4 linked regions of the Homo sapiens genome follow. The protein of the gene in region 1 interacts with the protein of each later gene in a pairwise test. Each region holds a gene or a part of one and is shown in the gene's direction. Other genes may lie near its edges.

What was found.
Region 2: the proteins of ERN1 (region 1) and SLC7A8 interact in binary tests that used the Homo sapiens proteins (3 or more experiments, as listed by UniProt).
Region 3: the proteins of ERN1 (region 1) and LARP4B interact in binary tests that used the Homo sapiens proteins (3 or more experiments, as listed by UniProt).
Region 4: the proteins of ERN1 (region 1) and OTUD7B interact in binary tests that used the Homo sapiens proteins (3 or more experiments, as listed by UniProt).

Annotation. Positions count from the first base shown.
Region 1 is NC_000017.11:64,127,122-64,134,531, reverse strand, and holds the start of ERN1 (serine/threonine-protein kinase/endoribonuclease IRE1 precursor), read left to right. Parts: upstream 1-4,387; 5' UTR 4,388-4,502; coding exon 4,503-4,556; intron 4,557-7,410. UniProt on the Homo sapiens protein: Serine/threonine-protein kinase and endoribonuclease that acts as a key sensor for the endoplasmic reticulum unfolded protein response (UPR).
Region 2 is NC_000014.9:23,159,649-23,166,671, reverse strand, and holds part of SLC7A8 (large neutral amino acids transporter small subunit 2), read left to right. Parts: intron 1-131; coding exon 132-336; intron 337-1,235; coding exon 1,236-1,387; intron 1,388-7,023. UniProt on the Homo sapiens protein: Associates with SLC3A2 to form a functional heterodimeric complex that translocates small and large neutral amino acids with broad specificity and a stoichiometry of 1:1.
Region 3 is NC_000010.11:928,699-935,984, reverse strand, and holds the start of LARP4B (la-related protein 4B), read left to right. Parts: upstream 1-4,279; 5' UTR 4,280-4,557; intron 4,558-7,286. Other genes in the region: keratinocyte proline-rich protein-like, read right to left, coding at 3,154-3,858. UniProt on the Homo sapiens protein: Stimulates mRNA translation.
Region 4 is NC_000001.11:150,000,709-150,007,731, reverse strand, and holds part of OTUD7B (OTU domain-containing protein 7B), read left to right. Parts: exon of another isoform or gene 1-1,027; intron 1,028-7,023. UniProt on the Homo sapiens protein: Negative regulator of the non-canonical NF-kappa-B pathway that acts by mediating deubiquitination of TRAF3, an inhibitor of the NF-kappa-B pathway, thereby acting as a negative regulator of B-cell responses.

The DNA of each region.
Region 1 (7,410 bases):
GTGACGGGAGGACGGAGATGAGAATTTAGCTTGCTATCAGAGACTCTTGCTTCATTGTTTTTTGTGTTTGTTTGTTTGTTTGTTTTGAGACAGGGTCTCGCTCTGCTGCCCAGGCTGGAGTGCAGTGGTGCTATGACAGCTCACTGCAGCCTCCACCTCTCAGGCTCAAGCAATCCTCTCACCTCAGCTTCCAGAGTAGCTGGGACTACAGGTGTGCACCATGGCACCTGGCTAATTATTTTATTTTTTTGTAGGGACAAAGTGTCACTATGTTGCCCAGACTGGTTTCAAACTCTTAGGCTGAAGATACCCGCCACCTCAGCCTCCCAAAGTGCGGGATTACAGGTGTAAGTCACAGCGCCTTGCCCCTTTATGGTTGTATTAATATTTATCCCATAACTACTTCCACACACTCTGTAGGTTCAGTTCAAGAAGCAGCAGCAGCGATATCACTAAAAACAACAACAACAAAAAAACTGACTTGATTTATTCTGATAAAGATACTATTCCTTTGAAATGTTACTGGAGTTTTCAACCATGACCTTTCTTTCTGGTTTTACTAGATTTTTCTTTCAAGTCTCCGCCTTCAAAGGTATCTATCCTGTCACTAGCTATCTGCAAATCAACCTCACAAGCATTTTTAAATGAGATTTTGAAGGGTTTTAAACACAAATGAGACAGGCACAAGCTCCTTTTTTGGGTCATAATTTATTACACTAGAGGGCGATATTTGCTAAACTAAAAGGGATTCATGGTTGCAGGGATGAAGGCTGGACATCATGATTGAGCTGGAGCCCTGGATCTTGACTGCCTTCAGTGTACGGTGGAAACTGCAAAACGCACAGGTCTCTGGGCTCTGCCCCTGGACATTGTGAATCAGTCAGGGAAAGGGGTACAAGAAGTTATTGGAAATATGTTTTTAATTTCTTTTTTTTTGTTTGTTTTTTGAGATGGAGTCTCACTCTGTCGCCCAGACTGGAGTGCAGTGGCGCAGTCTTGGCTCACTGCAACCTCTGCCTCCCGGGTTCAAGAGATTTTTCTCCCTCAGCCTCCCAAGTAGCTGGGACTACAGGCGCACACCACCACGCCCGGCTAATTTTTGTTTTTTTAGTAGAGACAGGGTTTCACCATGTTGCTCAGGCTGGTTGGTCTTGAACTCCTGACCTCGTGATCCACCTGCCTCGTCCTCCCAAAGTGCTGGGATTACAGGTGTGAGCCACCATGCCCAGCTTTTTATTTCTATTTTTTTGAGACAGGGTCTTGCTCTGTCGTCCAGGCTGGAGTGCCATGGCACGATCAAAGCTCACTGCAGCCTTGACCTCCTGGGCTCAAGCCATCCTCCCACCTCAGCTTCCCAAGTCACTGGAACTACAGGTGTGAACCACTATGCCTGACTAATTTTTTGGTTTTTTGTTTTTTTTTTTTTACAGAAACAGGGTCTCACCATGTTCCCTAGGCTGGTCTTGATCTCAAGCAATCCTCCTGCTTCGGCCTCCCAAAGTGCTGGGATTACAGGCGTGAGCCACCATGCCTGGCCTGGAAATCTGTTTTTTGTTGTTGTTGTTTTGTTTTGTTTTTTTAGCTCTCCAAGTTTGGGAACCAGTGGTTTAAAGGGAAGTGAAAATAAGATTTTCTCCCACCTCCCCATAGTCAGATCCTGCTGTACTTCTTTGTTGAATCTGATGTATATATGTTTCTTACACTGGTGGAAAAGAGGCCTTATCTTTACACTAAGACCATGACCTTTGCTTTATTCAGTGGATGTTATTTAATGTGACTTGCAGAAAGGTCATTTACTGCCCATTTGCAGGTCTTTTATATGGTCAGGTCCACTTCAAAGGCACCCTACAAAATATTCCATTTCTGTTTGTGTTTATCAGTGCTATCAGCTTTTACTTTATCATAAGCAAAAAGCTGCCTAAAGAAGTACTTGACTGTAGAGCAAGATTATGGGCAATGCCACCATAAATAAAACCAGTGCTTATCTGTCTGGATTGCCAATCAAGTGAAGAAGTGCATGAAGCATGTGGACGATGCATAAGAAATTCAGAGAATGGGGCCGGGCACAGTGGCTCACGCCTGTAATCCCAGCACTTTAGGAGGCGGAGGTGGGCAGATCACGAGGTCAGGAGTTCGAGACCAGCCTGGCCAACATGGTGAAACCCCGTCTCTATAAAAATACAAAAATTAGCCAGGCGTGGTGGCAGGCACCTGTAATCCCAGCTACTCGGGAGTCTCAGGCAGGAGAATCGCTTGAAACCGAAAAGGCAGAGGTTGCAGTGAGCCACGATCGTGCCACTGCACTCTAGCCTGGGCAAAAGAGTGAAACTCTGTCTCAAAAAAAAAAAAAAAAGAAAGAAATTCAGAGAACATGTAACAGTGCAATTAAGCCCTGGGGATTTGGTCCAACTGAGTGTAAGATAAATAATACCTAACTGTCCAGGCTTCTTGGAACAGATTTTTTTTCTTTCTACGATCTTTAAAACTGATTTATGAGTGAAATTGAGGTCAGCATTCCCCTTTGTGTTTCATCTGCTGATGTTACAGGGTCACAGTGACATTTTGAATTGTAAAAGGGCTGCCAGAGTTCCAGTACAGCAAATTTTCCCCTCCTAGACTTACTCTGTTTGAGAAAAAGCACCAGAGGGGGGGATGTGAAAGTGACATTTTTCAGTCAAGCTTCTCTTTTAAGTCAAGTATACAGGGTCTAACAGATGCTGTTGTCAGCTGGCAAACTGGACAGGTAATCACTAAAGAGGTCCTCCCAAGCCAGGTGTCGTGGGGCACACCTGAAGTCCCAGCTACTGGGGAGGATCTCTTGAGCCCAGGAGTTTGAGAGCAGCCTGGGCAACACCGTGAGACCTCATCTCTAAAAAGAAAAGATAAAAGGTCAAGAAATAAAGAGCTCCTCCCAGTTTCAGGGCTGTAGGCCTCCCTGGAAGCCCGGCTATACTGCTCAGGAGTGCTGGGCCTCTCAGTACATCTCTCTGCCAATCCCAAACCTCTGTTTGCATTTAGACATTCAGGTAACACTTTTCAAAATGTCTCTACTGTTTTCACAGTTGCCAAGATTCTTCCCACTCTTACAGAGATGTGTTGGAGTCTCCAGCATGCGGTAGGACTTAGTCCCTTCACTGTAATCCAGGCCTAGGGGGTTAGGAATGGGGAGCTCTATTTGCAGGATTTGGGCTTACTGTCATTTTGGTCTGTTTTAGTTGGATAAGATTGACCACAATGCACACAGACTGGACATTTGGCCAGTCCCCCACTACTACTTTGTTGTTTTGTCTAGGAGTGCTTATTCTTTTCCTTCAAACCTGAAAAATCTTAGGCTCTCATATAAGCAAGTCAGGAAAAATTAGAGAATTTCATAGCCGTTTTCTTTTTCTCCTAGGATAAGTTAGATACCTTTCCCTGGGCTCCAAATCTCAGTTTACTGTCTTTCCTTGCAAAAGACGTGTCCTCCCTACCCATGTCCCTCTCAGTGGAGGCCAGTGCCAGTGACCAAACAGCTGCCGAGCTCTTTAACTCTAATTAGTACTCCACACCCTCACATAGACCTTGCAGGAGGCCTCAACCCACCCACTCCCTCCAACGAGTTGTGACGCAGACCATCTCAAACTTCACATCCACACGTGTCACATCAACGCACGTGACACAAGTGGCCGAAATGGTTTCCTCCTTATAATTTTTGGTGAGTGACTTGGCCGTGGTTCATTCCAAGCGGAAGTGATGGCTGGTGGATATGACTTGAGGGGAATTCCTGAGGGCAAGGAAAAGGAAGAAAGGGGCCCCAGAGAAGACGAGGCACAGCTGGAGAACCCTAGGGCTGTGAACACTGCGACTGCCGCGCGGGGCAGCTGCGCCGTGTTTGCTGGAAGCCTCCGGTAGCTGCTGAAACCTTCGCTCCGGAGGTCGCCTCGGTAAACCTTGCGGATGATTCCACCACGGCGGAAAGACGAAAAGGAGGCTTCTAGGCACCCGGGACCGCCCGTGTCCCGCCCTTTTCCCCGATGAAGTCTGACGCGGCAGGTCCCTCGGCAGGGTTAATGGGACGGCCTGGTGGGGCATTGCCGGTCTTTCCCAGCCACAGACAAGCTTCGCGCCTCGATCCCCCAGCGCCCCCAGACGCTGGATGCCGAGGCCTGGTCCTTTACAGCCGCCGACGCCTCATGAGCGAAGCCAGCCAGATGCCAGCACCGCCTTCGGCCCCGCCCCGAGCCAGCCCCTCCCACATCCCCGCCCGGGGCACGCCCTCGGCCCGCCCCCATCTCCGCCCCGAACACGCCCCTAGATTGGCCCCGCCCCGTCCCCGCCCGCAACTCCGCCCCGACCGGAAGAAGCCGCGGCACCCAGCGCTTATAGGGCCGGGAATGGGGGTGCCGCCGCTGCCTAGTCAGTTCTGCGTCCGCTGAGGCTCGGTCACCGCCTCGCTGTCGTCGCGGCGCCCCCGCCCCGTCCTCTGTCCGTACCGCCCCCGGAGCCAGGGCCGAGTCCTCGCCATGCCGGCCCGGCGGCTGCTGCTGCTGCTGACGCTGCTGCTGCCCGGCCTCGGGGTGAGTGACCGGGGAGCGTGGGGTGGAGGACAGCTCGCGACGGCCGGGTCGGGGCCGGGGCAGCGTCGCGGCGCCGGGGCTGGAGTCCGAGCTGGGAGCGCGACGGCGGCGGCCAGATGCCCCGTGAGCCCAGCCGTGGGAGGCTCGGGCCGGGCGTAGGAGGCGGCACCGGGCCGGGAGAGCTTCCCTGACGGGAGTCGCGGCCCCACCGAGGCGTCGGCCGCCCGAAGAGCCTCCCAAGCCAGCGCGGCTGTCACGGGCAGCGGCTCCCCGGACCCCGCGGGCTCGGGCGCAACTTCGTGGCGTCCTGCACGGCACTTGGGGGTCCCAGAAGGCCCCGGCCTGAGGAGGCCGCCCACCTGCGGGACCCTCCTCCTCGCGGGCGGGCGCCGGCGCTGCCTGGCGGGGGCCGCGGAGGAGCCGAAAGGGCGTTGGGATCCAGGGGAAGGGTCTGTCCTGCGCTTCGAATCCTTGTTTGAACTTTTTAAAAATTCGAAAACTTTGGGGAACGAATGCAACAGGGAGTAAGGACTCTCACCCGAGAGCTGGCTTCTGCCACTTGCCCTGCCGGTTTCTTGGTACTGGGAGGCTGCAGGCTTCCTTCTGTGCACCGAGACTTCCTTGAGCAAGTGGAGCTGTGGGAATTGCACTCTTGGAAGATCCCGCATGGGTTCGAGGTGAGGCCGCTTCAGAACCTCAAATGAAAGACTGTCTCCTCGTGGGAGAGCACCTGGGGCCATCAGAAATGTCTTTTCATCTTTTTCTGGAGGAGACGAATGATAGGGCCTGGTTTACATTCATTTAACTCTTTATGACCTTCACTCAGCTGTGGATTTGGGGGCACTTTGTGGGAGACTTGGCTTTTTTTTTTCTTCTGGTTGGAAGAACCTAAATTAGCGAATGTTTTTCACAAAATGTATTGTTCAGGATGTGAGCGTGGCAAATTTGTCCGTGTTCTGTTTAATGACCTCTTTAAAGGTACTGTGTACTCTTTAATAGGGATATCATGTACCAGGTGTCCCAGTAGAGCACTGACATGTGTGTGCCTGAGTGCCAGCCACCGTGTGAACTCTTTGGAGGTTTTGCATTTTAGGTAAATAACTGTCTGTACTCTTGGAGTAACAAGAATTTGGAAACAGGAGAAGTAAATAAATAAGGTTGCCTTTTTCAAATTCAGGGTTTTTTTTTTTAAATAAAGGAAAATTTGTAGACTCTTTATAATAGAACTTGTGGAAGTTAAGTTTTTCTTTCAAATAAAAACCCCACTTTTACAACTAAGGTCAGGTTTTGAACTTGAGCACCTCACCTTGGATTGGTAACTACTGCCTGGCATCTGTTCACAAACGAAGGTATAAGCAGAATGACCAAATGTTTGACATGAATTCGATCATTTCATAACGTCAAGGGATAGGTGTATAATGGTTTCCTTTGCCACATCTTTCCTTTTGCTACTTTGTCACTGGATTCTAGTGTTTGGTTATTGAATAACTTAGGCTAAAGAGCCAAAAATAACGATTTAGCTGTAGTTGGAACTATAGTTTCAGTTCGTGTAAATATTTCCAATTTGTATTTAGAAATCCAAACTTCTCAGAGTTCATGATAAAATATTCCAGACCCTTATCAAAAGGTTATAGTTTAGCGTAACTATATTTAGGTGAAAGGTCAGGCCGGGCCCGGTGGCTCATGCCTGTAATCCCAGCACTTTGGGAGGCTGAGGTGGGTGGATCACTTGAGGTCAGGAGTTTGAGACCAGCCTGGCCAACATGGTGAAACCTTGTCTCTACTAAACATACAAAAAAAAAAAAAAAAAAAAATTAGCCGGGCGTGGTAGCGCAGGCCTGTAATCCCAGCTACTGGGGAGGCTGAGGCAGGAGAATCACCCGAACCTGGGAGGCAGAGGTTGCAGAGATGGAGTCACTGTGCTCCAGCCTGGGTGACAGAGCAAGACTCTGTCTCAAAAAAAAAAAAGAAAGGTCAGAATTTCACTCCTAGAATTTTCTCCCAAGGGTTTTTACCCCCAAACATAGTAAGAATTATTATTTTAAAATTGTAAATGAAACTCATAGCAAAGTTTGCAGTTAAACCAGGCAACAGTGATGTGCAGAACGCAGTGGGTATAAAATCAGACAAACCTGAGTTCTAACTGGTCACTTGCTAGCTGTGCCCTAGGCATATTCTTTTACTACTACTACTACTACTTCTTTTTTTTTTTTTTTTTGATATGGAGTTTCTTCGCTCTTGTTGCCCAGGCTGGAGTGCAATGGTGTGGTCTCAGCTCACTGCAACCTCCGCCTCCCGGGTTCAAGCGATTCTCCTGCCTCAGCCTCCCGAGTAGCTGGGATTACAGGAGCCCACCACTACACCCGGCTAATTTTTGTATTTTTAGTAGAGACGTGGTTTCACCATGTTGGCCAGGTTGGTCTCGAACTCCTGACCTCAAGTGATCCACCCACCTTGGCCTTCCAAAATGCTGGGATTACAGGCATGAGCCACCGCACCCGGCCATGATTTTACTTCTTAGAGACTCCTTCCTGATAGGTGAAATGGGGACAGCTAACATGTGAAAGAAGGCACCACCTTCACACGTGCTTAATAGATAATAAATGTAAATTCTCTTTATGCTCCAAAGATGCTTTTTACTCTAAGCCATCATTTTTTGAATGTTATACTATGCCTCTGCAAGAAATAGTTTTTGATATTTCTTTTTGATTGATGTAGTAACTATTGCATTGGAGGCAATACTGTGATTTTCTTTCAGTGTGTGTCTTATTGAGCCAGACATTGACTCATTATGAGTTGAGACTTTAGGCTACCAGATCCAAAACGCAATAACATTGGTATTATTAAGCACTTG
Region 2 (7,023 bases), on another chromosome or scaffold:
CCTGCAGATCATTTACATATATCCAAGGCATTTCAGAATCAGATCAGAAATGAGACCACCCTCCAAATGCCAATCCTGCCAACCGTCCTGTCTCTACTGTCTCCCCTCCTTACCCTTGGTGCCTCATGCAGGGAACATCATCGGCTCTGGAATCTTTGTCTCGCCAAAGGGAGTGCTGGAGAATGCTGGTTCTGTGGGCCTTGCTCTCATCGTCTGGATTGTGACGGGCTTCATCACAGTTGTGGGAGCCCTCTGCTATGCTGAACTCGGGGTCACCATCCCCAAATCTGGAGGTGACTACTCCTATGTCAAGGACATCTTCGGAGGACTGGCTGGGTAAGAGGATCTGTGGAGACCTGAATGGTCTAGGGGAAAAGGAGGAAGACATTCAGAAGGAGGTCAGATTGGAAAAAGCCAAGGCCAGGGGTTTCCAGTCTCCAGTGTGCCACGGGGTGCTAGTGAATGGAATGTCTCTTCTGCTTTCCTGCCATGGTTGCTAGTGTAGCCTTGTATCCCCTTGAGGCTCCCGATAATGATGGAGGACCAGGTTTGTAGTTTTGACCTCTATGTTGATCTTAGTGGGAAGGAGTCTATGAGTGAGAGCAAACAGAACTGTGTAACAACACTGACCATAGATTCCCAGAGAAAGCACATCACAAAAACAACGCCCTTCTATCTTGACAAATGAGAGTGGCCAGCTAAGGTAGAGTGCACCCTCTTCTCACACTACCAAGGATAATGGCCTCCCTCTAGAGCTGGGCCCTAATCTTAAATTTCCTCAATTTCTGCATCCCTGCCATTGGTAAACCCTCACCAATGGGCCAAAAGGTGTGGAAGGCGCTTCCCCTGCAAACCCCCACTTGATACCTCTCCTGATTATTGCTTACGTAACCACACCCTTAGTATGTCCTGTCTATCAACATTCTGGGGTTGCAAATTTTGTTTTTCCACCATTGGATGCTGGTGGCCACAGTGATGGAGAAGAGATCATGAAAGGAGAGGAGAGAAAGGAAGAACGCCAAGACTTGTGTTAGTGCTTGTGGAAATTTAACTCTTCATTAAACCATTTTATTGTCACTGCAGAGGGCTGGGTGTCTCATTTGTGGGTGGGGGCAGAGGCTGGGCTCTTCAGCATCCTTGAAAATAAAAAAGAGATGCATGACTTGCCCGGGCTCTCCCCTGATGGCTCTGCGTCCCTGCCATGCCTTTCGGCGGATGTCCCTTTCCTCCTTCAGGTTCCTGAGGCTGTGGATTGCTGTGCTGGTGATCTACCCCACCAACCAGGCTGTCATCGCCCTCACCTTCTCCAACTACGTGCTGCAGCCGCTCTTCCCCACCTGCTTCCCCCCAGAGTCTGGCCTTCGGCTCCTGGCTGCCATCTGCTTATGTAAGTGTCATCTGGGTCTTGGTAGCAAGACAGCCTCTTTTATTATATTTATTATTATTATTTTTAGAAACAGAGTCTTCACTCTGTCACTCAGGCTGGAGCGCAGCCGCATGATCATAGCTCACTGCAGCCTTGAACTCCTGGGCTCAAGTGATCCTCCTGCCTCGGCCTCCCAAAGTGTTGTGGTTACAGGTGTGAGCCACTGCACCCAGTCTGAGGGACAGCCTCTTTTATCCTCCCTGGAGGTCTACATGTCTCTGACTCTCCTAACTTCTCTCCATTTTTTTTTTTTTGAGGCAGGGTCTCACTCTGTCACCCAGGCTGGAGTGCAGTGGCGTGATCTCCACTCACTGCAACCTCCATCTCCCAGATTCAAGTGATTCTCCCACCTCAGACTCCCGAGTTGCTGGGATTGCAGGCGTGAGCCACCATGCCCGGCTAATTTTTGTATTTTTTGTAGAGATGGGGTTTCACCCTGTTGGCCAGGCTGGTTTTGAACTCCTGACCTCAAGTGATCCGCCCGCCTTGGCCTCCCAAAGTGCTGGGATTACAGGCCTGACCCACCTCACCCTGCCTCCTTTTCTTTTCCCCATTACTTTTCTTTCAATTTCCTACAAGTGTGTTTTTTATGAATGGATTCTGCATACAATTGTCTGGTGTTAAAAAAAAAAAAAGAAAGAAACTTAAGTAGCTCCTTGGAGGCACTATGATTTTCACTGGCAGGGTTCTTGACATTACGCAAAGCACTTTCACCTATATTATCTGATTTGGGCCTAATGACAAGTCCATGAGGTAAGCTGGGCCAGTGTTAACATTTTCCCAGAACAGATAAGGAAACAGAGAGCCAGGCAAATGACTTGCCCAGGGAGGCAGGCCACGTGGAGTGCAAGGGCTCCTGATTTCTTGTCTGTCCAGTGCACTGCACTGTGCTGGCTACTCCCAGCTGCTCCTAGGAAGATTACTCTGGCTTCTTGGCAGTAGGTCCACATCTACTTCTACCTCAACTTGTCAAGTCACACTCTTTTAACTCTCTTGGAGAAGGGTTTGTCCATGATCCCTGCCCTTGATGAGTTTTCTAACTAGGAGAAAAGCCATATAGACAGATACTGTGGTTAGGATTCAATTGCAGTAAAAATTCAGAGAAGGGAGCTAGGCATGGTGGTGTACACCTGTAGTTCCAGCTACCTGGGAGGCTGAGGTAGGAGGGTCGATTGACCCTGGGAGTTCTGGGCCACAGTGAGCTATGATTACACCTATGAATAGCCACTGCACTCCAGCCTGGGCAACATAGTGAGATCCTGTCTCTAAAAAAAAAAAAGAAATTAAAAACAACAATAACAATAAAATTCAGAGAAGGGGAAAAGATCTCTGTGGGCTGGAATAGGTTAGAGAGGCTTCCTAGAGAAGTTCTGCAGAGCCGTATTTCTAGGAAGTCTCAAAGCTTTATCTCTGATATTAGTCATCTCAATGGATTGGGGTATTTTACATCTTTAATCAAAAACTAATTTCTAAAGTAAATACTTAGATATGTTTCAGGGGCTCCACCTCTAGGGTTCACTGGGTCCCTGCCTTCCCATAGCTTCTAACACACATACACTTAGCTGAGGGCAGTGATCATCCTGGCCATATGCTTTCCCAGGTCCTGACACTTTTCCTTCTGTCCTGTTACGGGATGGGGGAGGAAGAGATCACTCACCCACCTCAGTAGCCTCTTACAGGGCAGGCAGCTGGGACCCAAGAGGCGGTCTCCTTGGCAAGTGAGCCCTCTTTGGCAGTGCTGGTCAACCCTGGGACAGACCTCCACCACCCAGGCCATTTGCAATATGGGGCCAAGACATTTGTTTGGGGGTGTATTCCTTGTGTTTGATCAGGCCTGCTCACAGATCTGGAGGCAGAGGAATGCAGGCTCCAAAACCAGGCTGCCTGCGCCTGCATCTCCAGTCCACCATTTCTAACTGCAGTGGTGAGTGCTGGGCAAAATCACTCGTCCACCCTACTGTGAGATGGGGAGTGTAATCCTAGCTGCCTCAAGAGGTCGTGGTCACAAGGACTGCAAGAGAGAAGGAAGGGGACACCCTCAGCACAGTGTTAGACACCCAGCACCCCAGTCATATCAGTCACTGGGGGTGGGCAAGATGCTGGGGCCACTTTATCCTTGCATCCTAGCTGGATCCAGAGTTGAGATGGGGAGCGGGGAAGAGCGAGGGCGTGGGAATGCAGGAAGAGTGCTGTTTCTGCCATCAGATCAGCTAATGGGAGGGTGGGAGGCAAGGCCACAGAAGTGCTAGCTACTGCTGTTTTGGTGTTTCTTTGCACACAGACAGCTTCCTTTTTCCTGCTGATGCTGCTAAAGTGTCTCAGACAAGAGGCCACCCTTACCCTTCTACTAGAAATCAAGAACCCCCGAGGCTGTTCAGTTTGCACCCTAGGAGAGGAGCCAGGCCACAGGTTGAAGAAGTTCCCAGGCAGCCAGACCCCATGGCTTTCTTTGCATTCCCCAAATCTGCCAAGGGTTTGACCTCTTGCACAAAGACCCTCCAAAGTAGTGTAGCCTTTTTGGCGTCCCCTCGGACCAGAAAGGTCCAAACTCTCCTAGGAGATAAGAACGCCACCTGCCTGTAGCCCTGCTCCAGAATGACATGTTGCACAGTCCTCTCCACAGCCTTCCCCTCACCTAGACACTGCAAGGACCAAGCCAAGGAGAAATTTAGAAACTGGCTGATGACAAAAATGACAAGACCCCCCTCCTCTATTCCTGTAGTCAAAGATTCAATAAAGCTTATCTAAGTTTGGCCTCTGCCTTCTCAGCAGAACTGCAAGGAAATTATCTCCAACTTAACAGTAGCCAATCTTGTCCTCTAAAGACAGGAATTTTCAATGTCCTTGAAATATGGGTTCAAATATTTGTCTACCTTCATAAGCAGAAAAATCTTAAATCCTTCTTATTCCCAAGCGTAGTCTTCCTTATTTCCTTTAGGGGAAATGGAAACCAGCTCCACACCTGTCCCGCTGCAGTGTCCCTTTCCTCCTAGCTGTGAAGGCCATGTGGAGCTGCCATCCCTCTGCCCGGCAGGGTGCACACGTACATGCATTAGCTATAACAAACTTCCTCTCTCCCTTTCCTTATACCTGACACTCCCAGCTGCTTTGAGTCTGTGTACAGAGGTTCTGTTTTCCGGTTTGTTGAATACTTTTTTTTTTTAATCCACTTCTATAGGCCCCTCAAATCCTCTCTTCTTTTTTTGAATTTTATGGCAGGCCATACCAGATAAGCATCCAATCCTCTCATACGGTATTCAGTAAAACAAGAACCAAGCTGTCAGGAAGGCTTGGTAGATGCTTTTTTTTTTTTTTTTTTTAGATGGAGTCTCACTCTGTCACCCAGGCTGGAGTGTAGTGGCGCCATCTTGGCTCACTGCAACCTCCGCCTCCCGGGTTCAAGCGATTCTCCTGCCTCAGCCTTCCAGGTTGCTGGGATTACAGGCATAAGCCACCATGCCCAGCTAATTTTGTATTTTTAGTAGAGATGGGGTTTCCCCAAGTTGGTCAGACTGGTCTCAAACTCCTGACCTCAAGTGATCCACCCGCCTCAGCCTCCCAAAGTGAGGCCACTGCGCCCGACTGGTAGACGCTATCTTTCATTAAATGCTGGTACTTTTTATTCCAGCACCCCTCCCACCCACCCACCTACCCCCACCATCATCCAGCCCTCCTCATCCTCTTAGCAGGGGCCAGGCAAGCCAGCTACATAAAATAAGCCCAGCCTGTGTCTCTTTTGAGAGACGCAGTAGAGAGTTCCGGTGTGGCGTAAACATATGCACATGGGGAACTCTGCTTCCTGCTGTCCTGTGGCGACATGCTGATGACTGTGAAGCGAGAGGTTTTGAGGAAAGGCCACCCTCTGTGGAGAGGTCATTGGTGTATAATGGAGGGCACTGGAGGACAGGGCACAGGGCCCAGCAGGGAGAGCCTGTGTGGTAAAGCCCGTGGCGAGGGTTTGCTGGGGGAGGGAGGAGATGAGGCCAAGTCTGGTTCCATGGTGGGGCTGTTTTGGAGGAGAACTGATGAGAAATGAAGTTGGGAGGAGCCAGGTGGTGGGGGTGGAGAGGTGGAAAGAACCTGCTGAAACTGGCTTGCCTGCCGGATCCTGAGCGGGTCGGGGAGAGGAGAGGGAGAGGGAAGGAACTGCAGACTTGGATCACACTTATGCAACTGCAGCTGCCACTTCGAGTTATTCTATTATTTAGGTCAAAGCTGATTACTCACTGCTGAGTCAGCAGAATATCCCTAGCCACCCAGCAGTAAAAAAAGAAAAGAAAAAAAAGAGAGAGAGAGAGAGAAAGTATTTTACATTTTAATTAAATAAAAAGCCTTTCTCTCTTCTCCAGAACAAGTATATTAGTGGGAGTGGAGGGAGTTAGGAGGGGACTGGGAAGTGTTAGAACTTGGTTTTGATACCTTTTGTGATCTGCTTGTGTGTTTTTCTCCTTTTGTATTATTTCATGAGTAAATGACTATATTCCCCATATAAAAGATCCAAGTAAGATATAGAGCCAGCAGCGATAGCCGCCCTTATCATCAGCCGCTGGCCAGTAGCTGCAGTCCTAGTGGATAGTTCTAAATAAAGTGCATCTATTACTGTACAACTCTGGCTGCATGGACCTATGTACTGACAGGTTATTCCTACAGCGTGCCCTTTTTTTTTTTTTTTTTTAAGACGGAGTCTCCCTCCGTCACCCAGGCTGGAGTGCAGTGGCGCGATCTCGGCTCACTGCAAGCTCTGCCTCCCGGGTTCACGCCATTCTCCTGCCTCAGCCTCCCGAGTAGCTGGGACTATAGGCGCCCGCCACCACGTCCGGCTAATTTTTTGTGTTTTTAGTACAGACAGCGTTTCACCTTGTTAGCCAGAATGGTCTCGATCTCCTGACCTCGTGATCCACCCGCCTTGGCCTCCCAAAGTGCTGGGATTACAGCTGTGAGCCACCCCCACCCGGCCTACAGCTTGCCGTTTTATCCTGTAGCCACATCTTTTGGCTGTTACCTGGGTCTCTAGTTGTAAACAAAGCATCCACAATGATCCAGAGGAAGCACTGGGTCCAGGGGACACCCTTTCCCAGGCTTCCATCTGTGCATCTGTGCAACTCTGCATTTTCCTTTGGGATCCGTTTGCTCCCCATTCTCTTGGAGACTGGATCACCTTTCATTCAGTCCCCTCCTGGCCTCCTTCCTCTCATTTGGGGTTGGAGTCATGTCCAGCACCTGAAGTGGAATCAATTCTTTTTATTCAAGTTCCCCACTTCTCCCTGAATGTCTTGACCTAAAGAAGTTCCTTCTCCTTCCTCACCCTCAGGAGAAAGAAATATCCTGTATGCATCTCTCAAGGAAAAAATGCTTCTAATCTTGTTTTCTATCTTTCTACTGAGATTCCTAAGAGGCTAGCTTTTTCCAGGGCTTCAGATAGCTCTTCTTCCTTGAGCTATTTGGAAAGGAAAGGACTTCATGTGTTGCTTCAAACTCCTGAGTTGCTTTGCAATTCCTCTGCAGAAAGCCTCCAACTGCCTGGTGCAGAATGCTGTCACAGAGAAACTCGTGAGTTGTTTTGCAAGTCTCTTGCAAATTTAATCAATCCCTTGACC
Region 3 (7,286 bases), on another chromosome or scaffold:
ATTACTTGAGGTCAGGAGTTCGAGACCAGCCTGACCAACATGGTGAAACCCTGACTCTACTAAAAACAAAAAACAAACAAAAAAAAAAAACAACAAAAATTAGCTGGGCATCATGGTGCATCCCTGTAATCCCAGCTACTCGGGAGGCTGAGGCAGGAGAATCACTTGAACTCGGTAGGCGCAGGTTGCAGTGAGCCAAGATTGTGCCACTGCACTCCAGCCTGGGAGACAGAGGGAGACTCAAAAAAAAAAAAAAAAAAAAGAAAAGAAAAGAAAAAAGAAAAAGAAAAGAATGTTCTCAGACACCACTTGAAATGTAGGCCTCTGCTAGAGAAATACACATGCTGTATTTGTTTGGTAGAGACTTTGTCCCAAGATCACTGCCCTCGCTGCCTCTGCCCTTGAGGCCTGACCATTTCTTTGGGATGACAGTAGTGTCAGCTGAAAATTGTATGATGTGATGTAGCTCAACAGAGCTACAAACAAGTGCTAATAATAGGGCCCAGAAGGAAAATCAACTGTCTAAAACACTTCAGTGGTTGACATTTGGGCTGTAACTTGAAAAATAAGCGAGATTCCGCCAGAAGGAGACATCCAAGTACAGGAAGCACATTTGAGGCCAGGGGACTCACATCCATTAGGACCTAAGTGCTCAGGCTCCAAAAGAATGCCGCCCTCGACTTCCAGAGCAGCGCAGCGTCTGGAGCTGGGGCACCTCTCCATTTCTTTGTATAGGACTGTCCACACTATGAACTGTGGACTTACCTGTCAACTGTGCAGTCTGGAGTGTAAAGTCTGTATTTTATTCAAGTGTAGACTCATCAACTCCCTCAATACCTTCAAAAATGCTCGGAAAGTGAGTGTGATTGGAAGGTAAGGATGTCTTAGGATAAGGCAGGAAAGGAAACACAGGGGGCTGGGCTGAAGACAGGCTGGGACTAGCGTGTGAAGGGTCTTCTTTCCACAGGAGAACTTGGACTTTATCCTCCTGGGCAGGCAACGGGGAGCCGGTGAAGGTCGCATTGCAGGAGGATGGTGATGAAGCTTTTTAAGGAAACATGTGCTGGCACTGTGAGTAATGGACTGTAGCAGAGACCAACCGCGACGCCACTGAATCAAACCAGGTGAGCAGTAACAACGGCAAAACCACTGGGGGGACGGGGAGAAGGAAAGAGTTTTTAGGTAGGATTGACAGAATTTGTAACCACTTGACATGGGAAATGAGGGAGTGTATCTGATCATGGTTTGAGAAATTTATACTAAAGTTTTAAAAAACTGATCTTGTCTAAGGAGAGATGCCATGAAAATGTATTTCATGTTATAACCTCACATCTCAAGGTGAAAATGGATGTTTCTTCTGAGACACAGGTTTGAAAAAAAGAAGATCATGAGGGAACAAAAAGCCCAGTTCTGATTGTTGGAAAGGATTACACAATACGAAGAGAAAGAAGAGATGGAATTCTTTTAGTTTTAGTTTTTTTCTTTTTCTTTTTTTGAGACAGGGTCTCGCTCTGTCACCCAGGCTGGAATGCGGTGGCACAATCACAGCTCACTGCAGCCTCAACCTCAAGCGATCCTCCCACCTCAGCCTCCTGAGTAGCTGGAACCACAGCCATGCACCACATGCCCGGCTACTTTTGTATAATTTTTTAAAGAAATGGGGCTTTGACATATTGCCCAGACTGGTCTTGAACTCTTGGCCTTGGGCGATCTGCCTGCCTTGGCCTCCTAAAGTGCTGGGATTACAGGCATGAGCCACTGAACCCATCCCATTACTTTCTTTTGTAATAGGTAAGACATAGATGTCTGCTGGAATGTAGACATAGACAAAAAAGATTGAAGTTTAACCTACCAGCCGGGAACGGTGGCTCACGCCTGTAATCCCAGCACTTAGGGAGGCTGAGGCAGGCGGATCACGAGGTCAGGAGATCAAGACCATTCTGGCTAACACGGTGAAACCCCATCTCTACTAAAAATACAAAAAATTAGCTGGGCGTGGTGGCATGCGGCTGTAGTCTCAGCTACTCCGGAGGCTGAGGCAGGAGAATCACTTGAACCCGGGAGACTGAGGTTGCAGTGAGCCGAGATTATGCCACGGCACTCCAGCCGGGGTGACAGAGGGAGAGTCAGTCTCAAAAAAAAAAAAAAGTTTAACCTACCAATTTTGGGGCAGAATTCCTAGACTTATACCACATCAATGGCCCTAGCAATGTTATGAACCAAGAGTAAGCTCCTGTAGGTTATCCGTGGAGGTAAAGGAACCAGGCACCTAAGCAAGGACACTATGGCCTACTGGTCAGGGCAGGTTGTCCAGGTAAGCAAGTTTTCTGAAATATGTACATGCTTTTAATATTAAAGGAAATGTGTCTTATGTCGTTAAATGTTCTTTAAAAACATTACTATGAATATAATTATTTAACTTGCAAATTCCCTTAAAGCTAGGATGCAACAAGGTTTCACAAAGAAGGCACCCAACCTTGATGTCAACAGTCTACCCACTATGGGAAGCCGGAGAGGCTTTCTTCCAAAATGCAGAATTGTCAGCATTTGAACGCTGAGTACGAAAAATTATAAGCACAGGCTGGGTACACCGGCTCCCATCTCTAATCCCAGATTTTGGGGGCCCGAGACAGCACTCTGAGCTCAGAGTGCAGACCTGCATAGAGCAAGACCCTGTATCAAAAAACAAAATTAAAAAAGCAGTTGTAAGCACAGGTACACGGTTAACCATGAATATGGTATCCCTGAAAAGCCGTTTTAATGGGGGAACAAACCTAAAATTTGGAATAATTGATAATATGTGTATATGTAGCCAATCAGAGCAGAAACCAGAAAATCAGGCAGCAAGCTTAAGGGAAACGCAACATACTTTGTTTGGTTTCCTTTTCTTCCATAAACTGATCAGGGGTAGGTAGAGTATGCTGCTATAGTTCGGAGTCGTCACCATCCTCACGGAAACGGCAGGAGTGTGAACACCTCCCTGAGCTACCAAGAGCATCTGACTCGTTGCAACGTGGGCCCGAACCCAGCGCCTCTAGGAAACGTGGGGCCGGGGCCTTTTGGTCCCGGGTGTGGGTTGGGGGTTTGGGGAAGGGCCGGGGCCTTGATCCCAGGTGTGGGGTTGGGGATTCCGGGGCTGAGCCGAGGCCTTGGTTAGGGGTGTGGGGCGGGGGTTCGGGGCAGTGCCGGGGCCTTGGTCCCGGGTGTGGGGTTGGGACTTCGGGGCCGGGACCTTCGTCTCAGGTGTGGGGCGGGAGTTCGGGACAGGGCTGGGGCCTGGGTCCCTGGTGGGGCGTTCGGGGCAGTGCCGGGGCCTTGGTCCCGGGTGTGGGGTGGGAGTTTGGGGCAGGGCCGGGGCCTGGGTCCCGGGTGGGGCGTTCGGGGCAGGGCCGGGGCCTTGGTCCCGGGTGTGGGGTGGGAGTTTGGGGCAGGGCCGGGGCCTGGGTCCCCGGTGGGGCCTTCGGGGCAGGGCCGGGGCCTTGGTCCCGGGTGTGGGGTGGGAGTTCTGGGCAGGGCCGGGGCCTTGGTCCCGGGTGTGGGGTGGGAGTTCTGGGCAGGGCCGGGGCCTTGGTCCCGGGGGTGGGGTGAGGGGTTCGGGGCAGGGCCGGGGCCTTGGTCCCGGGTGTGGGGTGGGAGTTCGGGGCAGGGCCGGGGCCTGGGTCCCGGGTGTGGGGTGAGGTGTTCCGGGCAGGGCCGGGACCTTGATCCCAGCTGTGGGGTGGGAGTTCGGGGAAGGGCCAGGGCGTGTCCTGGGTGGCCAGGGTCGGGGCCTGGGTCCTGGGGGTGGGATGAGGGGTTCGGGGCAGGGCCGGGGCCTTGGTCCAGGGTCTGGGGACAGGCTAGGGCCGGGGTCGCCATCCGTCCTGGGCGGCGGGCAGGGGTCTTTAAGGGGCGCACGCGGTGGCGGAGGACCAGGGCCCAGCCCTCCGGAAGTCAGGGCCCACACGGCCCCCCAGCGTCAGGCGCTCCGGTCGCGCCGGGGACGGCGGGCGGGGCGGGCGGGGCGGGCGGGGCGGACGTGCGGCGTGCGCGGGGCGGGGCGATGTGCGCGCACGCGCCAATCGCAAGGCCGCGAGCAGGGTGTACGCGCGGAGAGGCCAAGAAGGCGGCGGGGCGGGCCGAGCGTCGGGTGCGCCCAATCAGCGCGCCGCAACACCATGACGTGAGGCTCTCCCGGGGCTGAGCGCCAGTCCGCGGGACCGGCGGGTGAGTGCGCGAGTTCAGGGCGCGAGGCGCGGGTCCGCGCGGGGGCGGGACTTCCGCAGGGCCCCGGAAGTGGGAGCTGTGTGTTCTCATGCGAACGGGAAGGAGCGTTGGGGATCTGGAGTCCCGGGGTTGAGACATTTTCGGGCCCGAAAGGGGAAGAATCCGCCGCCGCCGCCGCCGCCAGCTCGCGCCCGCCCTCTCCCCTACCTCCGGCCCGGCCCGGCCCGGCCGCGCCGCCTCTCCCTGCCGTCTCTCTCCTCGCCGTCCCCGCGTGTGGCGCGGCCGCCGGGCCCCGGGGTTGAGGCGAGGAGCCCGCGGGCGGCCGGTCGGGCGGGGCGGCGGCGCTGACAGGTGAGGCACCCTGGGCCGCGGCGGGCCGTCCCTCCCGGCCCAGCTCGGACCCGCGCCGCGCCGCCTGTCACTGCGCCGCCATCTTCCCGGAGGACGCGGCCGCGGCGGGCAGGGCCGGGCCTGGGCCGGGGCCGGGGCCGGGGCAGGGGAAGGCCGGGGCCGGGTTGAGGAGGACCGGGGCTAGGGCACGGGAAGGGCCAGGGCTGAGGAGGACCGGGGTCAGGGCCAGGAAAAAGCCGGGGCTGAGGAGGACCGGGGCCGGGGCAGGGGAAAACTGGGGCTGAGGATGGCCGAGGCCGGGGCAGGGGAAGGCCGGGGCCGGGGCTTAGGAGGACCCGTTGAGGCGAGGCGGGAGTCGACGGAGCTGGGTGCCCGGAAGACCGGGCCGGGGTCAGGGTCGGGAGGCCGGGGTTGGGCGAAGGCCGGCGAGGACGGGGGTCGGGCAGGGCCTGGGCGGGGCCGGGGTCGCGGGCCGCGAGCGCCCCCAGGCCGGGCGGGCGCCGGCACCCGCAGTGCGGCGCCAGCCTTGCCACTCGCTCCTCGGTCCCGCCGGAGCCCGGATAGGCGGCCGTGCGGGTGCGGGGCGGGACGGGTCATCAGGGCATCGCATTCCTTTAGAACCAGGAAGTTGGGATCCTGTTGCTCGGTGTGTGTTTGGAACGCTCCTGTTTTCCTGTTGATAGACTTGAGCAGAGGTGGATCTGAAGGAGTTAAAAAAATAAAGTCAGATGTGAAGATTGCCTGTGTTGGTCTTGGGGCTGGGATACATGGGCGGCAGAGAAGCCATCGGAAAGCTGCTGCACCTGCCTCTCAGGGTGCGCTTGGGAACGTGAAGAGTCTTTCCGTTTCAGTGCCGTTGTGCGTCGAAACTTCATGCGAATGTAATTTTGCTTTTCCCCTTATTTTTACGTAAAACGTTCTTAAAACTTGGCTGAGATGAAACTTGAGAAACCTAGCTGTAGAAAACTACCTCCTATCTGGCTTTCGTTTGAGATTCTCTAAGTGGATGCCCAATAACTTGTCTTAATAGTAAATTGGAAGTTTGAAGTTTTGGATAACTGAGAAAACAGGAAGGTTTTCCTTGACAGGGCAGTGGAGTTTGTAAGTATAAACAGTATGCGTGAGGCCTTTTTCTAGAGATGAGAGCAACTCCAAGGTGAACATTGAAGGGGACAGACAAGTTATTTTCCCTTTCGAAAGTTTTTTTCTCTTAGTTTCAGTTGTTTGAATATTTAAATGCACTTGAAATAGGTGCTGAGTTGTAGTTTGTGAAGACCACAGTGGGGAAGAGTGGTGTCCTCTTTTTTCTTGGTGGTCAGGTGGTGTGTGCAGTGTGCAATTTCCATACTTCCCCAACCTGCCTGGCGCCCCTCATTACAGTCAGGGTAATTTACAGAAGTTGAAATCGTTGTGGCTTTTCAGTTTTTTCTCCTTGTATTTAATATGCTGAAAGGCAGTTTTGTAATCAAACCATATAAGAAATAGCTTAATTGAGGTTTGCTAAGTGAAATGCGTTCCGAAAGGCATCAGATTAACAAGCTTATTATTTAATCATAAATTTAATTTGTGTACTTATCTTTGAAACTTGCATTGGTTAGAAATAAATTTTATCCGGTATTTTGAAAAGTTAATGTGAGTTGAGTTGACTTATTTATATGAAACAAAGGCATGGCTTATTCATTAGAAGTTACCCTCGTGTTGCCTACATTTTCTCAATTGTAACAGGGGGATGATGATAATCTCATTTTCTTAGGACTGTTGTAACACAAACATGGAAATGTTGTCTGGTTTTGCTATTTTCACTATTACTGATTTTTTTCTTCCCCCCCCGAGTTGGAGTCTTGTTCTGTCACCCAGGATGGAGTGCAGTGACACGATCTCAACTCACTACAACCTCCACCTCCTAGGTCTTCAAGTTATTCTCCTGCCTCAGCCCCCCGAGTAGCTGGGATTTACAGGCACATGCCACCACACCTGGCTAATTTTTGTATTTTTAGTAGAGACGGGGTTTCAGCATGTTGCCCAGGCTGGTCTCGAACTCCTGGCCTCAAGTGATCCACCTGCCTTGGCCTCTCAAAGTGTTGGGATTACAGGAGTGAGCCACTGCGCCCAGCTTACTGAATTTTTAAAATATTCTACCTTGTAGCTGTCAATCTATTAGCAGAAAGTTTTGTTTTTGTTTTTGTTTTTTTGTTTTGTTTTTTTTGGCTTGTTTACACATGTATCTGGGCAGAGAAAACAGCTTCTGAGCACAGAATGCATATTTGGAGAAAGCAGTTCCACTCTTTTTGAGTAGGAACCAGACAGAAAAAAAGATAACATGGGTACTATTCTGTAGAAGAGTAGCTGAAATTAAGTGGCAGCAAATTCAGGGAGAAATGTAATTTGGTTTAATGTTCGGGAAGATTGCCATTTTTAAAAGTGAGATTTAAAGAATTTATTGAATTTAATGCAATTTCCATAAGTAAGCACAAGTTTTGACAAGTATATATTTAAGGTGTTTTTATGAAGCAGTCTTCACATTATCTTAAAATGTAGTTCTAAAATACGTGCAGGCTGGGTGAGGTGGCTCATTCCTGTAATCCCAGCACTTTGGGAGGCCTAGGTGAGTTTAGGAGCCCAGGAGTTCACCAGCCTGGGCAACATAGAGAGACCTCATCTCTACCAAAAAATCAAAAAATTAGCCAGGCATGGTGGCTCACACCTGTAGTCCAGCTGTTGGAGAAGCT
Region 4 (7,023 bases), on another chromosome or scaffold:
CAGTTGACTTTTTAATATAATAGAAGAGAGTTGTTTGTTTGTTTTTAAATAAGACATCCTTGCTGAGTAATGATTGAACACTTCTCTGGATAAAGCAGTCTCCATGCTCCAGTGACAGGCTTTAGGGAGGTATAAAAGATGTAAAGACATGTGTCTTTGCTCTTGGGGTTGAGGGTGGATGGGAAAGGTGGTGTATAAATATGGGAAGGCAGACTATTATGAGCTTTAACATTTAGGAAACAACATATAGACAAAAGCAAATTTAACGTGCTGATAAGTATGTAAGGGCTGAGAAGACTTAAAGTAACAAAGTAAGAATCAGTGAAATAAATTGGGGAGATTTCTGAGTCAGTAAATTTTGAAATGGACTTGGGAGGCTATGGATGAGTCATAAAGAGGTATGGGCTATTGAGTTAGATGGGTCTTCGTTCAGACCTTGCGGCTATTTTTTACCATGTGACCTTGGACAAGTTAACTTCTTTTCCTTATCTGTAAAATGTGAGCATTCAAGTAAATGAAATAGTTACTGTGTTGGGAATAAAAGAAAAGAAAGGATCTTCCAAACAGAAAGTATAGAATGTACAGTGTGCAATGATGATATGAATGACTAAGTTGTGAGTGGGGGGAATATATGAGAGTGACTGTAGAGAATGTGGGTTGGGCAAGTCATGAGTAGAGCAGGCAAGAGGGTGGAGGGGACTCAGAAGCCAGACTCTGTTGGGTGTTGATAGAAGGGTCAATAGAATCATTGTAGGTCCTTGAACAAAGGACGGATTTAATGAGAAATATTGAGCCCTTTGGTTCAGGAACTCAGGGACAAGGAATCAGGCAGGCATCCGTACATTGTGACTCTTATTTTCTGTACCATCCTAACCTGAAGGGATACAGCCAGGAGGCATAAGATTCCTTGTAGAAGTTTTTGTGTTTACACACCTTACTATGCTGAGCCTGCTTGTTCCTGTCTCGTAGTGCACCAACCTGTGGGGAAGTCTCAAGACTATGGCCGGATTCTCCTCAAGAGCTTATAGTAAGGACAGCATTATGTTTCAAGTGCATTTAACTCTCAGTTGTCTCTGCTAATGTAGGGAGCACTGTTGTAGGTAATTCAGAACTTAACAAAGACATTTCCTGGTTATTTTCAACTGTGTTTTTTTTAGGATTATACCTTATCCCTTTATTTCCTCTAAGAAATAGTTTTAGATAAGAAAAATTACTAAACTGTTATTTGTAGTGACCCACTATGAGTTTAATTCTTTGCTAGGTGCTATGGAGGTTTAGGAAAAATGACAACTTTGCTCCCAGACTGAAGTACAGTGGCGCAATCTCAGCTTACTGCAAGCTCTGCCTCCCAGGTTCATGCCATTGTCCTGCCTCAGCCTCCCGAGTAGCTGGGACTACAGGCGCCCACCACCACGCCCGGTTAATTTTTTGTATTTTTAGTAGAGACGGGGTTTCACCGTGTTAGCCAGGATGGTCTTGATCTCCTGACCTCGTGATCCGCCTGACTCGGCCTCCCAAAGTGCTGGGATTACAGGCGTGAGCCAGTGTGCCGGGCCGAAAATACATTATTTTTTAAACTAGATTTATTTTCATTTTTGGGGATCATACTAATATTGAAATAAATTTGCATTTCTAAGCTTATATTACCTGATGGTGGGGAGAGTACACTGATGATGAAGAACAGTCATTCTTGCATTAAAGATTTGGCCTTAGAAATCCGTAAAATGAATAATCCATTTGTAGATAATTAAGACTAGACTACACTGAATATGTTGATAGACCAATTTCTTTTCAAAATCTGTATGGATCCAATGTGGCCTCCTAGGCTGTCTGTCTTATGTCTGAGAATGACTGGCAGGTGATGCTTGTGTTCCAGCCAGAATGAGCCTTCATTCACAGTATCTGGACGAATGCCACTACATTATGTTGTGTTGTTGAAGATTAAGCCGGCTTTCTCAAAGGACTTGTGCTTTGTAGAGGCTCTTCCAGATATCAGCTTCATTGAAAATCTGTCAGACTTTTCCTCCTGTAGGAAAGTTGTTTGAAAGTATGTCCAATTAAAAAAAAAAGGAATGGGCAGAAGTGTCCACATTTAAGAAGTAAACAAAATCACATGCCATTCTTTCATCCCTTTTTTTTCTTCTCCAGTTGACTTGCTTTTCTCCATCCCTGCCACTCTCCCCCACCTCTTTATAATCATTACCAAACTGATGTCACGAGCACAGGATTATTATTTACTTCTTGAGTCAGGAGATTGTAGTATTTCTGAGCTAGAAATCAGGTGGAAAAGTCAGGAATCTTATTTTATACAACTAGATAGGGATTATTTTCAACTGTGCTTTTTTTAGGATTATACCTTAGCCCTTTATTTCCTCTAAGAAATAGCTGTAGATAAGAAAATTACTAAACTGTTATTTGTAGTGACCCACTATGAGTTTAATTCTTTGCTAGGTGCTATGGAGGATTAGGAAAAATGACAACTTTGTGTCCTTGAAGAGTTTACAGTCCAGTTGGGAGTAAGAAGAATAAAAAGGAATGAATACTTGCTGAGCCTCTTAATATGCCACACAAAATTTTAAAATGTGAAACTATATTGTTAGTTGCATAGTGCAGACCTCATACCGTAGGTATTTGGGGAGAGGAGTACTCAGGTAGTTATGTCACAGAGGAATTATAACTCATTTCAGATCTTAATAAAAAAATAGGCCAGGCACAGTGGCTCACGCCTGTAATCCCAGCTACTCAGGAGGCTGAGGCAGGAGAATCACTTGAACCCAGGAGATGGAGGTTGCAAACAGCCGAGATAGCACCACTGCACTCCAGCCTGGGTGACAGAGCAAGACTCTGTCTCCAAAATAAATAAAAAAATAAATGAATAAGTGTTATTGTATTAGGTACAAGGGATGAAGATGAAGAGGATAACAAAACATTTCATATTGGAGCTGAAAGGGATCAAGCGAAAGCCTGGAAACAGGACTATACCTGAGATGTTCTTGGGGCGGTGAGGAGACTAACCTGAGTGGCAGTGAGCAGTAGTGAAATGAAGGTGGGTAGGTTGGTTTGGAGCTATGTTTATAGAGGGTGTTAAAAAGCTAGGCTTATAAGTTTATATATATATATAAAATTTATTTATTTATTTATTTATGTATTTATTTATTTATTTTTTTGAGACAGGGTCTTGCTCTGTTGTCCAGCTCAGGCTGGAGTGCAGTGACACAATCTTGGCTGACTGCAACCTCCGCCTCCTGGGTTCAAGTGATTCTCGTGCCTCAGCCTCCTGAGTAGCTGGGATTACAGGCGTGCACCAGCATGCCCAGCTAATTTTTGTATTTTTAGTAGAGACAGGATTTCACCATGTTGGCCAGGCTGGTCTCAAACTCCTGACCTCAAGTGATCCGCCCACCTTAGCTTCCCAAAGTGCTGGGATGACAGGCATGAGCCACCGTGCCCGGTCAACTTTATATTTTAAATGGTAGAAGATTTTTGAATAGAATAGCAGTATGATGATACTAATACACAGGTTGGCTGGGAGGGAATGGAGATTGACACTGGGGGTGTGTGAAGTGATGAGGCCCGAGTTAGAGTTGTGGAGGGTAGGCTAAGGAGAGGAAAGAGTGAAAAAGAGACTGTGAAGGAAAAATGGAAATTAATGAGGGGTGGATGTGGGAGATGAAGAAGGGTGATGAGTCAACTACAACTGTGACACGTTGTGCCTGGGTGTCTGAGACATTGAGTGAAATAAAGAAGTTAGGAAGCTTTCCTCATTTTGGGGAAATATGATGAGTATAATTTGCGATGTGTTGGATTTAAAGTGGCAATGAAATGTCCAAATGAAGGCTGTCCTGGGTGTGAGCTGGAGTAAAGATGGGGGTAGGTTTGGAAATGCAGTTTTGCAATTCATGGCCTAGATGTGGTAGCTGTAGCCAAGAGAATTAATAAGCTCTCTGAGGACTAAAGTTTAGGGAAAGAGCAGAAGGGCAAAGAAAATGGTACTGATAAACCTAAACACGTCTAAACCTAAACATGTCTCCTATCTTGTAAACACCATCCTAGGCACTGAGATGGAGGTAAGGGAGACAAGGAACCCACGAGGAGCGTATGGGTCTAGTGGGAGGAGACAGATATGTAAATATATAGATAGAATGAAGTGTGATAGATGCTGTGATAGAAGTATGCAGCAGGGAGAGTGGGAGCCCAAGGGTCAGTTCTGCCTTGGGCATGCTGAGGTTGGAAAGAGCCTCCCTGAGGAGTTAGCATTTGAGCTGAGTCTTGAAAGATGAATTAAGGATATACTCTACAGATGACAAGAATTACATTCCAGTCTGAGAAAATACCATGAACAAAAGCTTAAAGGAATGAAGGCCAGACTTCTTCAGGTAACTTTTACTTAATCATTATGGCTGGAGGATGGGATGGAGGGCAGGCTGAAGAGGTAGGCAACGCTGGATCATACAGAGTTTTTATCTTTTTTTTTTTTTTTTTGAGACAGAGTCTTGCTCTGTCACCCAGGCTGGAGTGCAGTGGCACAATCTCAGCTCACTGCAAGCTCCGCCTCCCGGGTTCACGCCATTCTCCTGCCTCAGCCTCCCGAGTTGCTGGGACTACAGGCGCCCGCCACCATGCCCGGCTAATTTTTTGTATTTTTAGTGGAGGCGGGGTTTCACCATGTTAGCCAGGATGGTCTTGATCTCCTGACCTCGCGATCCGCCCGCCTCGGCCTCCCAAAGTGCTGGGATTACAGGCGAGAGCCACCACGCCCGGCCTGGAGCTTTATCTTATACTGCAGTATATCAGGAGCCATTTAATACGTTTCACATCCTAGAAAGATTATGTCAGTGGTGTGTAGGGTGGATTGGAGATGGAGAAAGCAGAATTCCTTTCAATAACTTCATTATACTGAACACATTTATTGAGAGTGATCATATTTACAGATTCATGGAATCAGACAACTGGCGGGGCTGCGATGCTTTCTTAGTTTTCCTCATTCATTTTCAAATAGAATACCTGAGGTTTACTCAGGATCACAGAAGTGGTTCTGTGATAGCTTAGTCTAGAATTCAGTCTTCAGCATGTACTAGGTGATTAATAAAGGTGAATTCACCTCTCTCTTCTCTCCCAAGTCCCATTTCAGTGTTTGTGTCATTCTGCCACATTGCATTGTACTAGCAGATAGAAGGACTTAACATCATTCCATTCTACCGTCTTTTTTTAACCAGTCCAAAGTGAATAGAGGTATTTTCCTAGGTCTGACTGAGAAAGATGTTCCCTGAGAGTACCATTGGGAAGAGGGGCAGTTCGGTGCCCTGGACTGGGCTGAATGAGGTGTTAGGATTTTTCAGCTGTAGTGATTCAGATGTAGAAGAATGTCAAGGTATTTGTTTTGTTGCATGTCTTTATCTCTGCCACTAAGCTCCCTTTAAGTTGTTTTCTTTTAAACTTAGTTTTATTTGTGCCACTGAAACTTGTTAAATAAGCTATGATAAATTGGGCACTGATTAAAAGTATATTTATCTAAAAAAAAAAGAATATCTAAACAAAATTTAGAAAAGTTCAGGGAAAAAACCCAAACAGAAACAATTTTGAGCCTACATCCCAAATTTGATGGACATTAACATTTTGTCATATTTGTTTTAGATGTCTTACTCTCTTTAAAATATTAAATACTCAGATTCTGCATCTTCCCTGTATTTTCATTTTCATTGGATTTTTGTGGAGGGAAATTGTTTGGTTTTAAAGTGCTAAGTGAGAGTTTGGATTTTGTGTTTTAGTCACTTTTGCTGGAGGAGAACAGAACAGGGTAGAGGGCATCCTCTAAGTCCTTAGATTCCCCTGGGAGAAATTGGGACTTAAGGACGTGTGGAAGGATGGATACCTTCCATTGATAGGCCTTCCTCAAAACTTGTCTGAGTTGTGATTTTTAAATTCTTTTCTCTGGGCTCTGTCAGCATCTTCCCCAGAGAAGGGCCTTGGTTTGGAAGCTGTCCACTTAAGCAGAGCTGCCAAGTCTTAATTCTTTCTCAAGTGGGCAAGGGTACATTTTGTTTTTGTTTGTGAGTATTTGGGAGAAGGAAGGGGTGGGTAGAAAGGAGGCACAGAATAGCTACTCACAGTGAGTACTTATCTGAATTCCTGTGTAACTGGAAGCTTTCTTGGCTGTTTTAGGGGAGATAACTTGGTTACACTAGCATTTAAATTATGTGGGAAGGTGGTTTTTCACTCCCCTCTGCTATCTGATTTGAGATGGCAATAAACCTTCTTGTCCATTTTTGTCAGTCCTCACTCTACCCTGTTCTAAGCGCTGCTGTTTGAGGGATGTGAAGGCTCCTCTTCAGTCTAAAACTGAACAAGTCAGATATCTCCTTATAGTTTTGGGAAACCATTCTGCTCCTGACTGTTTTTGTGTTGACTCCTCTATTCATCAAATCACCTGGCCCTTTATTAATTTTACAATTTTGCATAATGAGATATTTCAAACATTTAGAAAAGTTCAGGGGAAAAACTCAGGCAATTTTGAGTCTACAACCCCAACTTGATGGACATTAACATTTTGTCATATTTGTTAGATGTCTTACTCCCTTTAAAATATTAAATGTTATAGATATAGCTGAAGTTCCACCCTGCATCCTTTCCTCCTTCCTCTTTCTCAAGAAATGACTACTGGCCTGAATTGATGTGTTCATTCCTTCATGTTTTATACTTCCTCTGCCCCGCCACATCTTTATTTATTTATTTATTTATTATTTATTTATTTTTGAGATGGAGTCTTGCTCTGTCACCCAGGCTGGAGTGCAGTGGCACGATCTCTGCTCACTGCAACCTCTGCCTCCCGGGTTCAAGCGATTCTCTTGCCTCAGCCTCCCGAGCAGCTGGGATTACAGGTGCGTGCCACAGTGCCCAGGTAATTTTTGTATTTTTAGTAGAGACGGAGTTTTGCCCTATTGACCAGGCTGGTCTTGAACTCCTGACCTCAAGTGATCTGCCCACATTGGCCTCCTAAAGTGCTGGGATTACAGGCATGAGCCA